3 linked regions of the Homo sapiens genome follow. The protein of the gene in region 2 interacts with the protein of the main gene of each other region in a pairwise test. Each region holds a gene or a part of one and is shown on either strand. Other genes may lie near its edges. The genes, in order: AAMP, NELFCD and CACNA1A.

The links.
Region 1: the proteins of NELFCD (region 2) and AAMP interact in a two-hybrid assay, tested with the Homo sapiens proteins (one large-scale study listed by IntAct).
Region 3: the proteins of NELFCD (region 2) and CACNA1A interact in a two-hybrid assay, tested with the Homo sapiens proteins (one study listed by BioGRID and IntAct).

What each region holds. Positions count from the first base shown.
Region 1 is NC_000002.12:218,263,607-218,267,263, reverse strand, and holds the end of AAMP (angio-associated migratory cell protein), read left to right. Parts: intron 1-277; coding exon 278-417; intron 418-676; coding exon 677-821; intron 822-1,116; coding exon 1,117-1,200; intron 1,201-1,317; coding exon 1,318-1,433; intron 1,434-1,581; coding exon 1,582-1,685; intron 1,686-1,802; coding exon 1,803-1,893; intron 1,894-2,089; coding exon 2,090-2,244; intron 2,245-2,655; coding exon 2,656-2,731; 3' UTR 2,732-3,135; downstream 3,136-3,657. Other genes in the region: GPBAR1 (G-protein coupled bile acid receptor 1), read right to left, coding at 3,547-3,657. UniProt on the Homo sapiens protein: Plays a role in angiogenesis and cell migration. In smooth muscle cell migration, may act through the RhoA pathway.
Region 2 is NC_000020.11:58,984,247-58,987,894, forward strand, and holds part of NELFCD (negative elongation factor C/D), read left to right. Parts: intron 1-1,846; coding exon 1,847-1,962; intron 1,963-2,507; coding exon 2,508-2,617; intron 2,618-3,461; coding exon 3,462-3,571; intron 3,572-3,648. UniProt on the Homo sapiens protein: Essential component of the NELF complex, a complex that negatively regulates the elongation of transcription by RNA polymerase II.
Region 3 is NC_000019.10:13,499,848-13,503,495, reverse strand, and holds part of CACNA1A (voltage-dependent P/Q-type calcium channel subunit alpha-1A), read left to right. Parts: intron 1-3,648.

The sequences.
Region 1 (3,657 bases), on a different chromosome or scaffold from region 2:
TATAGGAGCAGGCGGGCAGAGGTGTAGAGTGGACAGAAGGGGGAAGGCATAGGAGGCTGGGACTTGGTCTGGTTGAGTGAGGGCCAGCAGTGTCTCCCAGCAGACATGGGAGTATTGGTTCCTAGAGTGGTGGTGAGTTCCAGCACCTGTTCTGCTCAGTCCCGCCCCTCTTTTTTTCCTAGCTGGTCCTTTCAGTGGGCCAGATACCAGAATCACATGCCCCCAGCACCAGGTACCCTATTTTTTTCCTCTGTTTTCTGCCCACTTTTCTTTGAAGGCCATAAAGACTCTGTGACTTGTGCTGGTTTCAGCCATGACTCCACTCTAGTGGCCACAGGGGACATGAGTGGCCTCTTGAAAGTGTGGCAGGTGGACACTAAGGAGGAGGTCTGGTCCTTTGAAGCGGGAGACCTGGAGGTAAGATCATCAGAGCGGGAGTCAGCTCTGTGGGGCCTTGGGTTGTTGGGGGTGCAAGCTTGGGAGGCCAGTTCTGCCTTTATTGCGCCAAGCCAGCTCTGAGCCAATGCGCCCCAAGGCACAGGAAGAATATCTACCTGCTACCTGGAAAGTCCCCGCGGAACCCCAGAGGCAGGAAACCTTGGGTGGAGCTCATGGGGCAGGCTTCTAGGTGGGATGGGGTGACGGGCCTCCCTGCTGCCCCTTCCTCCCTGTCCAGTGGATGGAGTGGCATCCTCGGGCACCTGTCCTGTTGGCGGGCACAGCTGACGGCAACACCTGGATGTGGAAAGTCCCGAATGGTGACTGCAAGACCTTCCAGGGTCCCAACTGCCCAGCCACCTGTGGCCGAGTCCTCCCTGATGGTGAGAGCACCTCCCTTGAGTGACCTTTCCTGGGTGCAGAGGCCGAATCCCGGGATATACACCTCCCAGAGCAGCCTTCTGGGTCACAGCCGGCAAAATCTGAGGCCTGCTGTTTGCAGTGCTGACCTCCTGGGCCCCAAAGTTCACAGCGCCTCCTTCCTGCTCTGAACTCACCTGTGATTCCTGGGGCAGTGTCTGGGCCCTTCCACTCTTCTTTCCTCTCCCTCTCCCCATTCCCTTGCTTAGTGTATGTGAGCGTGCCCTCTGCCCTCTCTTCATCTGTGCCTCTCTTCAGGGAAGAGAGCTGTGGTAGGCTATGAAGATGGGACCATCAGGATTTGGGACCTGAAGCAGGGAAGCCCTATCCATGTACTGAAAGGTATCAGAGGTGGGGGAAGTGTTAGCCTGGGCCTTTGTAGGGAGGGGCTGAGAACCTGGGGCAGGACTCAGAGGGGAGGTAGGACGAAGCCTGAGCTGCCTCCCTGCTCTATGCTAGGGACTGAGGGTCACCAGGGCCCACTCACCTGTGTTGCTGCCAACCAGGATGGCAGCTTGATCCTAACTGGCTCTGTGGACTGCCAGGCCAAGCTGGTCAGTGCCACCACCGGCAAGGTGAGTGGACCTGGAGCCCGGCTGGGGCCTCCGCTTTCCCGACTCCTCTCCTTCCTTCCTGGGTCTTCACTGTCTCCTCTCCCCACCGTCTTTCTCTCCATCAAGCACCCGGATTCCGTGTCCTCCTCTGATCCTCTCTGGCTTTCAGGTGGTGGGTGTTTTTAGACCTGAGACTGTGGCCTCCCAGCCCAGCCTGGGAGAAGGGGAGGAGAGTGAGTCCAACTCGGTGGAGTCCTTGGGCTTCTGCAGTGTGTGAGTGAGGATGGGGAAAGGGGTTTGTGGGAGGGGCCTGGGCTGGGGGCCCGGGAGGACGGCAGGGCGTGTGAGTCCAGGCCCTCATGAGTCTTCATGGTACGCTCCTCTGGCCAGGATGCCCCTGGCAGCTGTTGGCTACCTGGATGGGACCTTGGCCATCTATGACCTGGCTACGCAGACTCTTAGGCATCAGTGTCAGCACCAGGTATGGGCAGCTGGAGCTGGGGTCCCTGTGGGCTGTGTCCATAGTGGTGGGGAAGCCCAGGCCTCCAGGAGCATCTACCCCAGATCTGGCTCCTGCCTGGCCCTTGTGTGTGGCTGTCCCTCTTTGAGAATTGGGAGCAGATGGCTCTCAGCTCTCCTGCCAACCTCCGCCCTGCCTCTGTCATTCCTCGGGGCAGTCGGGCATCGTGCAGCTGCTGTGGGAGGCAGGCACTGCCGTGGTATATACCTGCAGCCTGGATGGCATCGTGCGCCTCTGGGACGCCCGGACCGGCCGCCTGCTTACTGACTACCGGGGCCACACGGCTGAGATCCTGGACTTTGCCCTCAGCAAGTAAGTGAATTGGCCAAGGGCTGGGATCTTTGTGTATTTGGAAGGTGGCAGTAGTATGTAGGGGACACAGGATCCTTGGGGTGTGGGAAGGGATTCCTAAGGCAGGAATGCAGAGAAGCCTGAGGGTTCACAGCCCAGCCCCCATTCCAGTGGCTGACAGTGACCCTCCGGGGCCCCACGTCTCAGTCATGAGGGAGAGGCTGAGACTGATTTTCCCCATCGGAGTCAGCTCTGCTTCTCCCGTGCTGGGGGCTTCCTCTAATCCCCTCCATGCTGGCTGCAGAGATGTCGGCCCAGTGCTAGGCACTAGGGCCCTAGAACTGAGGGTGTGCTGGAGGAGCCCACCCTAGGGCCCCTAGGTGGTGGGCTTGGGTCCCCCAGTCTCTGCAATCACATGCTTTCTGTTTACAGAGATGCCTCCCTGGTGGTGACCACGTCAGGAGACCACAAAGCGAAAGTATTTTGTGTCCAAAGGCCTGACCGTTAATGGCTGCAGCCCCTGCCTGTGTGTCTGGTGTTGAGGGGACGAAGGGACCCCTGCCCCTGTCTGCCAGCAGAGGCAGTAGGGCACAGAGGGAAGAGGAGGGTGGGGCCCTGGATGACTTTCCAGCCTCTTCAACTGACTTGCTCCCCTCTCCTTTTCTTCTCTTTAGAGACCCAGCCCAGGGCCCTCCCACCCTTGTCCAGACCTGGTGGGCCCTTCAGAGGGAGGGGTGGACCTGTTTCTCTTTCACTTTCATTTGCTGGTGTGAGCCATGGGGTGTGTATTTGTATGTGGGGAGTAGGTGTTTGAGGTTCCCGTTCTTTCCCTTCCCAAGTCTCTGGGGGTGGAAAGGAGGAAGAGATACTAGTTAAAGATTTTAAAAATGTAAATAAAATATACTTCCCAGAGACAGAGTCTGTGTGGATTTTGTGATGGCTGGACCCTAGGAGGAGCTAGCGAGGGCCCCGTCAGGGCAAGGCTGTCCCGCAGAATCGGCTGGATGTTGAGATGTGCCAGCTCCCCATCTCCAGGGGTGGTCTGTGCGCACGACACTTCTTGCCTGCCTGGAGTCGGACTCTGCCTTAATCCACGCGTATGTCTGTAGGTTCTTTCTATTGTTGGTGTGTTGAGCCATTTCCTCCTGCCTCGCCCTGAGATATGGAATGAGATAATCATAAACGGCCAGAGGAGCTTTATTCAGTCAGTGCGGGGTCAAACAGAGGCAGGGTCTCTGATCCAGAGAAGTGGGGCCCGGTAGAGACAGGCTGGATGGCTGAGCTGGACGGATGCTCTGGTAGGAGTCAGCAGAGGCCCTTCCTTTAGTTCAAGTCCAGGTCGACACTGCTTTGGCTGCTTGGGTGGTAGGCAATGCTGGGGCCGGGACTGTCCCGGGAGGCTCTTCCCCACAGCCCCTGCAGGCACCTTTGGGC
Region 2 (3,648 bases):
AAGGGCACGCTCTTGCTAGAGCTGGGGCGTTTTTTCCTGAAGGAGATGGGAATCTTTAAGCAGGAGAGAGACGTCAGTTTTGTGGCTTACAAAGATCACTGTGGCCACGGTGTGAAAGATGATTGAAAGGAAGGAATAAGACTGAGACTTCAGGGGAATGTTGCTACTGCAAGCATACAAAAAATAAGGAAGAGCAGAGGCAAATGTGGAAAGAAGGACCACCTTGGATAGACAGATGGGAGATGGAACTGATGAGTCTTTGTGACAGGATGTGGGGGTGGGGTGAGGGAGAGAAGCTGAGGATGATTTTCAGGTTTGGGGGGTAACAAGTAGATATATGAAGGATACCTTTACGGAAATATGGGTTGTAGGAAGAAGATCTGTTTCTAGGGAAGAGATGTCAGTTTTGGACCTAAAGAGTTTGGATACTTGTGAGACATCTGACTGGAAATGAGAATGGAATGTTGGATACCTGAGTCTGGAGCTTAAGAGAGGAAAGACGGAGAGAGAGATCCAGGCTAATTCTAGATTGGTGAGCAGGTAGATAGCATGACCCAAGAGGTGGTGGAAGAGGCAGGTAGGTGAGTGCCCAGGGTGGAAGCCCAAGAGAACAGACAACGTGGGAATGAAGCTCGGGGTGAAGTCCGGCCTCTGTCATGCCCTTAGGGGCTCAGCGTTCCCCATGCAAATCTGGTCTGAGAGAAGACTCCACAGCTTTTACTGGGAAGTCATCGGGTTCTGTCTGCTCCCAAAGCACTGCTTTTAGGATCTTAGTCCAGATCAGGAGTGAGCAAACTTTTCTGAAAAAGGCTAGATAGCAAATATTTTAGGTTGTGCCTGTCTCTGTCTTAACTACTTACCTCTGCCCTTACAGGGGGAAAGCAATCATAGACAGTCCTTAAAAGAATGGGTGTGCTGTGTTCCGTAAAAGTTTATTTGCAAAAATAGGAGAGGGCTGGATTCGGCTCTGGGTCATAGTTTGCTGACCCCTGGCCCAGCTCTTGCCCCATTATGTTAGAGTAGGTTGCATGGAGGTCTGTCTCTCCTATTAGTTTGTGAACTTCTTTGATGGAAAAAGCCTTGTCTTGTCTTACATTTTCTTAGGTTCCTTGGTTGATGAGCATAGTGCAGACTGAATGTTCAAAAAGCATCTGCTTGTTAGTTAGGGTGGCAGTGTTAAAGTTGGACAGGGTTTGGGATCACAGTCCATCCTCACATGGTCATTAGCAGGTGAAGAAGCCTGCTTTGCCCTTAGATGGAGTGACAGGCCTGAAGTTGCTTCCACATAGAATTGGGACTGGAGTCCAGCCAGAAGTGTGGATGCAAGGCGAGTTAGTGGTCTTTACTTTCTAATGGTAAGTGATGGCTCACGCTTTCAAGAATCAGGTTGTTACTCTTCAGTGGCATGTATGAAATAAGAATAGTGAAAACAATAATAATAATAGTTTACTATTTATTGCACTGTTACGAAATGTCAGGGATTATGCTGGGTTCTTCCAAAAATTAGCTCATGGAATCCTCACAACAGCCAAATGGGAATAGGCGTTATTATTATCTTCACTTAACAGAGGAGGAAATGGACACTCAGAGAGGTTGGGTAACTTGTGTGAGCATGGAACGCGGTTTGCCAGGGAGGAGTTGTACACACCCACTCAGTGTGATCCTGGATCCCATTTTCCTAGCCACTCACTATCTGTCCAGCCCATTTCATGAAATTGTCATGAAAGTCAAATGAAATAATGTGTGTAGAATACTTTCAAAATGGGCAGCATTATACGATTTAAGGTGAGATTAGGGTATTTGTATTAATGAAAAAAATATCCTGGCTCTTCGCATTTACCAACAGCAGGAGGATGATTCTGGAGAAGGAGAGGATGATGCGGAGGTTCAGCAAGAATGCCTGCATAAATTTTCCACCCGGGATTATATCATGGAACCCTCCATCTTCAACACTCTGAAGAGGTATGTGAGAAAGGTGTCTGTATTGGGAGGAGGCTGGGGGTAATTTAGAGAAAGTTTTGTAATACACCCAGAAGGTGCTATGTAAAGCAAGAGTAACGCGAACTGAACTAAAGGCTTCAAGGGGGGGTCCCCTCTGCCACTTTTTTTTTTTTTTTAAATTTTTTTAAGACAGAGTCTTGCTCTGTTGCAGTGGCACAATCACCGCTCACTGCAGCTTCAGCCTCCTGGAATCAAGCAGTTCTCCCACCTCAGCCTTGCAAGGTGGCCACCACAGGCGTCTGCCATCATGCCTGGCTATTTTTGTTTTTGTTTTTTGGGAGAGACAGGGCTCCTTACGTTGCCCTGGCTGCTCTTGAACTCCTAGGCTCAAGTGATTCTCCCACCTCTGCCTCCCAAAGTGCTGGGATTACAGGTGTGCACCACTGCACCCAGCCCCCTCCGCTGCTTTAAAAATTTTGAAACCTGATTCTCTTCCTCCTTCCTTACCTTCCTGTTGTCCATCATTCCATTCATTCGGGTGTAATTGCTGTTGTTACTTTCCCTAGGTATTTTCAGGCAGGAGGGTCTCCAGAGAATGTTATCCAGCTCTTATCTGAAAACTACACCGCTGTGGCCCAGACTGTGAACCTGCTGGCCGAGTGGCTCATTCAGACAGGTGCTTTGTGGGTGTCCCCTGTCCTGGCTAGTTACCCCCACTTTTTTAAAAATAGACTTTTGGGTCCTTATAACACTGATACAATGCCTTCTTTGATTTCCTGGTTTCTGAGACTTGTGTAAGAAAGAGCTGAACTTCTTACTCATTTTTATCTTTATCTTACTCATTTGTATCTGCTTGCCTCTTATCTTTGATTCAGTAATTGAGGTTTACTGGTAGCCTGCAAACGTGATTCTCATTGAGCTGTTTTCCCTACCATGTTGTAGAATTATAGGATTATACAGTGTGTGTTCAGTGTGTCATTTTCAAGACGTCTATTACAGCAAGCAGTAAATGACGGATAATTTAGGACTGGCTGTGATTATGGCTTTTAGTTAATATGATCAAAGTAGAGTCTTACTGTAAATCCACGGAGCCGGGTGCAGATGACATCACTGAAGTGCGTGCTGTCCGGAAGCTTGTGGACACACTGCTGTCCCGGTGATTAGATACAAGTGTGTCTCTTTTGGCTGCCATCTGCTCCCTCCTCACTGGGCAGGGATGTTTTTCCATCCCCCTACCTGTTGCTGGGGCCATTTGTCTTTATCCTCAGTGAGGCTCTGCAGATGGTGCTGTCCTTTCCATGAAGTTAGGGGTGGACCAGACTTGTGTGTTCTGTTCTGTGCTGCTTTTTGGTCTTATCATTGATAACTACTTTGAAGAGTTCCAAAACCTTACATGTATAAGTGGTCAGAAGCAATTCTTTGGTATTTGATTCACATAGAGACTTTTGACCATTTGCTTTCTAAAGCCACACAGTGAATGGACAGCTTGCCATTGTCTAGTTGCTTTTATTCTCTTTCAGGTGTTGAGCCAGTGCAGGTTCAGGAAACTGTGGAAAATCACTTGAAGAGTTTGCTGATCAAACATTTTGACCCCCGCAAAGCAGATTCTATTTTTACTGAAGAAGGAGAGGTGAGAAATTATTTTTCTTTGCCTAGTACCAGGCCCTAGGGTCTTTTGCAAATTCCCTGTGTACAGTGGAGCGTGGC
Region 3 (3,648 bases), on a different chromosome or scaffold from region 2:
CTAAATATTTCTGCCATTAAAAAAAAATGTTTCAGCATATCCTGAGAGTGAAAAAAAAAGTGTGTAGGTACTTAAATAAAGTCTAATATATGTACAGGCAAGTACATATATTCAGATGCATAGATTTTTACAAAATGAACACACCCACGTATCCAGCACCCAGGTCCCGATCAGTGCCCTGGAAGTCCCCCTCCCCATACCGCCTCCTAGTTGCTCCCCCAACAAGGGTACCGCTCACCTGACTTCTAAGGTTCATTTTGCCTCTTTTAAACATGTAAATGGAGTCACACAGTACGTTCTTTTGCCACTGGCTTCTTTTGCTCACATCTGTGTATGTGACTCTACTACAATCTATCCATTCTACTGTTGATGGGCATTTGTGTCATTTCTGTTTGTGCCACTGGGAACATTCTTGTGTCTTCTATTATTTTTTTCCCACAGTTCTCTTAGATAGGAGTGGAATCGCCCCTGCTACTTTTTGATGCATGTGTTGTGGGATGTGTATTTGGAAATGGTGTTGACTAAGGGTTGCAGGTCGATATGGAAAGCAGGTTCCTCCCTGTCTTGTTTAAGAGAAGTGAGTGAATGATCCATGAACTTGTCGGTATGCTCACAGGGCCTAAGAGTGCTACTTCCAAATGTAAATTCTGGCATGGTACACTGGTGAAGGATGCAGTCTTGCTTTCTCCACACTCGGGGCAATTTGTCACTATGATTTCTTCCTCTTTCATCCCTCAGTGGGTCAAACTTGAAGCCATCAATGACAATTAAGAATCCTCATTTATTTCATTTTTTCCCCTCTTCCTAAGTGAGGAAACCCAAATGGAAGTCTTTGATGTTCAAATTTACATTGCCGTGTTTTTCTCATGCCAGGCAGCAAGCCGTCTTGACCACACACCTTGGTTTCATGTTTTCATTGACTGGAATTGTGATTCAAATAGGGCCATGAGGGTCTCTGATGATTGCCGAAGAGCTCAGATCTGTCAGCTCAAAAAGGAGCATCTGTCAGCCTTCCTAGAGTTCCCTCCCCACTTAATGCCACTCACTCCTTCTACCAAGTGCCAAGGTGAATGTCATCTTTCCAGCCCTCCCTGTGCCACCAGGTCTCCCACTGAACATGATGTAGAAACTCAGGCCATCGGAGGAACACTGGAAGCAGGTCAGTGTATTATCACGCACAGTTGCCTGAATTACACGTAGAATTCCAGCTTTTCATCCGGTTTGCAGAAATCTTAACAAGACACCTAAAGTCACATTGACATCAGGTGACATCACTTTGACATCTGTGGACATTGGCTGATTGGCACTCCTCTCATTTTTTTTTTTTTTTTTTTTTTTAAGAAAAGCTCTCTAAAGAGAAACTTTCTGCATGAGAAGCGCTGGGAGACATGGGAGCAGGTTATCAGACTCTTGGCCTGTCCTGAGAGATAGAATGTTCTAGAAGGTACTGCCGTAGAGGGCAGGATGGTGTCACTTACGTGATCCTTGTACTAGACCGGCTTGGCTGGTATTTCCAGAGGAGCAAAATTCTGCGAAGTAAAATTTAGCACGGCTTTTCCAATGGGAGTATTTTCAAAAAGGGTGCAATTTCTTATCCACAATTCCCCAATCCAAAAAGCTCCAAAAACCAAAAGACGAGCTCATATAGAGGTAAAACCTAACCTGAACTGACTTCAGTTTGAAGTCTTAATTTACAGTTTTCATTCATTCTACTTGGTGTGCATTTGAGTATGTTTTGCAGCAGAAATGTTAGATGTGCTTGATGATGAGGTGCTGCTTCAGCTCCTGACTGTTAGGTCTGCATTGTAGTCCTGTCAAACTTTCAGGTGTATGGAAGTTGTCTTGTTAACAGGATGGTTCTGGTCCAGCAGGATTTGGGTGGGGTCTGGGATTCTGCTTTTCTAGCTAGCTTCTAGGGATTCCCCATGTGGTAAGTTCATGGGCTAGGGTTGGAGTATCCAGGTTAGATCATAGAGACATCTTGTTATCATTTTTCTTTTCCTTAAAAATCAGGTTTATAGGGGCCGGGTCTGGTGGTTCACGCCTATAATCCCAGCACTTTGGGAGGCTGAGGCCGGTGGATCATGAGGTCAGGAGTTCGAGACCAGCCTGGCCAACATGGTGAAACCCCGTCTCTACTAAAAATACAAAAATTAGCCAGGCGTGGTATTGTGCGTCTATAATCCCAGCTACTCGGGAGGCTGGCAGGAGAATCATTTGAACCTGGGAGGCAGAGGTTGCAGTGAGCCGAGATTGCACCACTGTACTTTTTTTTGAGACTCTGTCTCAAAAAAAAAATAGATTTATTGATGTATAATTTATTTGTAGCAAAATTCACCCTTTTGACATACTGGTCTGCAAGCTTTGACAAATGGATGTAGTTGTGGCCACCACCCAAATCAAGATATGGGACAGTTTCATCAACCCTAAAATACCCCCACAGTGCCCCTCTTGAGTCAGCACCCCACTTCTCCAGCCCCTTCAACCACTGATCTGTTCTCCATCCCTACAGCTTTGCCTTTTGCCGAAGGTCATATAAATGTAATTTCACAGTATATAGCCTTTTGAATGTGGATTCTTTTACTCAGACTTTGAGATTCATTCATGCTGTTGCCTGTGACAGTAGCGCCTTCCTTTTTGGTGTTGAGCAGGATTCCATGATATGGATGGACCAGAGTTTGCTTCCCAGCCGAAGGACATTGGGATGCTTCCAGTTTCAATGATTATGAATAGAGCTGCTATAAACATTGGCTTATGGGTTTTAGTGGGAACATTTCATTTCATACATTTCATTTCTCTTGGGTAAATTAACCCAGGAGTGAGATTGCTGAGTTGTGTGGTAGGTGTATGTTTAATTTTATAAGAGGCTCTCAAACTGTTTTCCTAAGTGGTTGTACCATTTTACATTCCCATCTTTGCAATGCGTCTAAAAGCCCTGAGTTCTGAATTCCAAAGCACGTCTGGCCTCGATGGCTTAGGATTAAGGATGTGGATCTATGGAAAGGAGTGGAAGTAATAGTGTTAAATCCCGGTCAGAGAAATAAGAAAGATTAAGGATGTCATTCAAAGCTATGTGCCTGCACTAGAGAGAGAGAAAGAAGGGGTTCTCTTGGGTGGGGTTCCACCCCTCCCTGGTAGTTCTACCATTCCCCAGGAAAAAGTCAAGCTCTGAGGCTGTGAGACCCATGATCTTTACCCTGTTCTTCACCACTGCAACCCCAGTGTGTGGGACAAAGCAGGCGTCCTATAAACGTTTGCTGAGCAAATGAGAAAAGGTACCTGTCTTCACCCATTAACTAAATTGTATAACATCTATCTGATCTACCCTTGTGCCAACGTTTTAGGATTTTGATGGGTTTTAGTTGCAGGGGGTTGAGAGACTGTCCATGAGATTATCAGACCAATGAAAGTTTCTGAAATGTTAGTGCTTGAGTAGATTGGATGCAGCGGCCCCTTGAGAATGAAGTCTTTCTTCAGGGACTTGGAGTGGGAGGCATCTGTTGGGTGCGTAGGGCTTATGCTTCCCCCTCCCTGTTTCCCCCCCAGTAGCAAGCACACATATACACTTTCTCAGCAATAAAAAGCACCGCCGGGAAGGTGGACTCCATCCAGAAATGATCAGAGCCTAAGAGCCGTGCAGTAACGCAT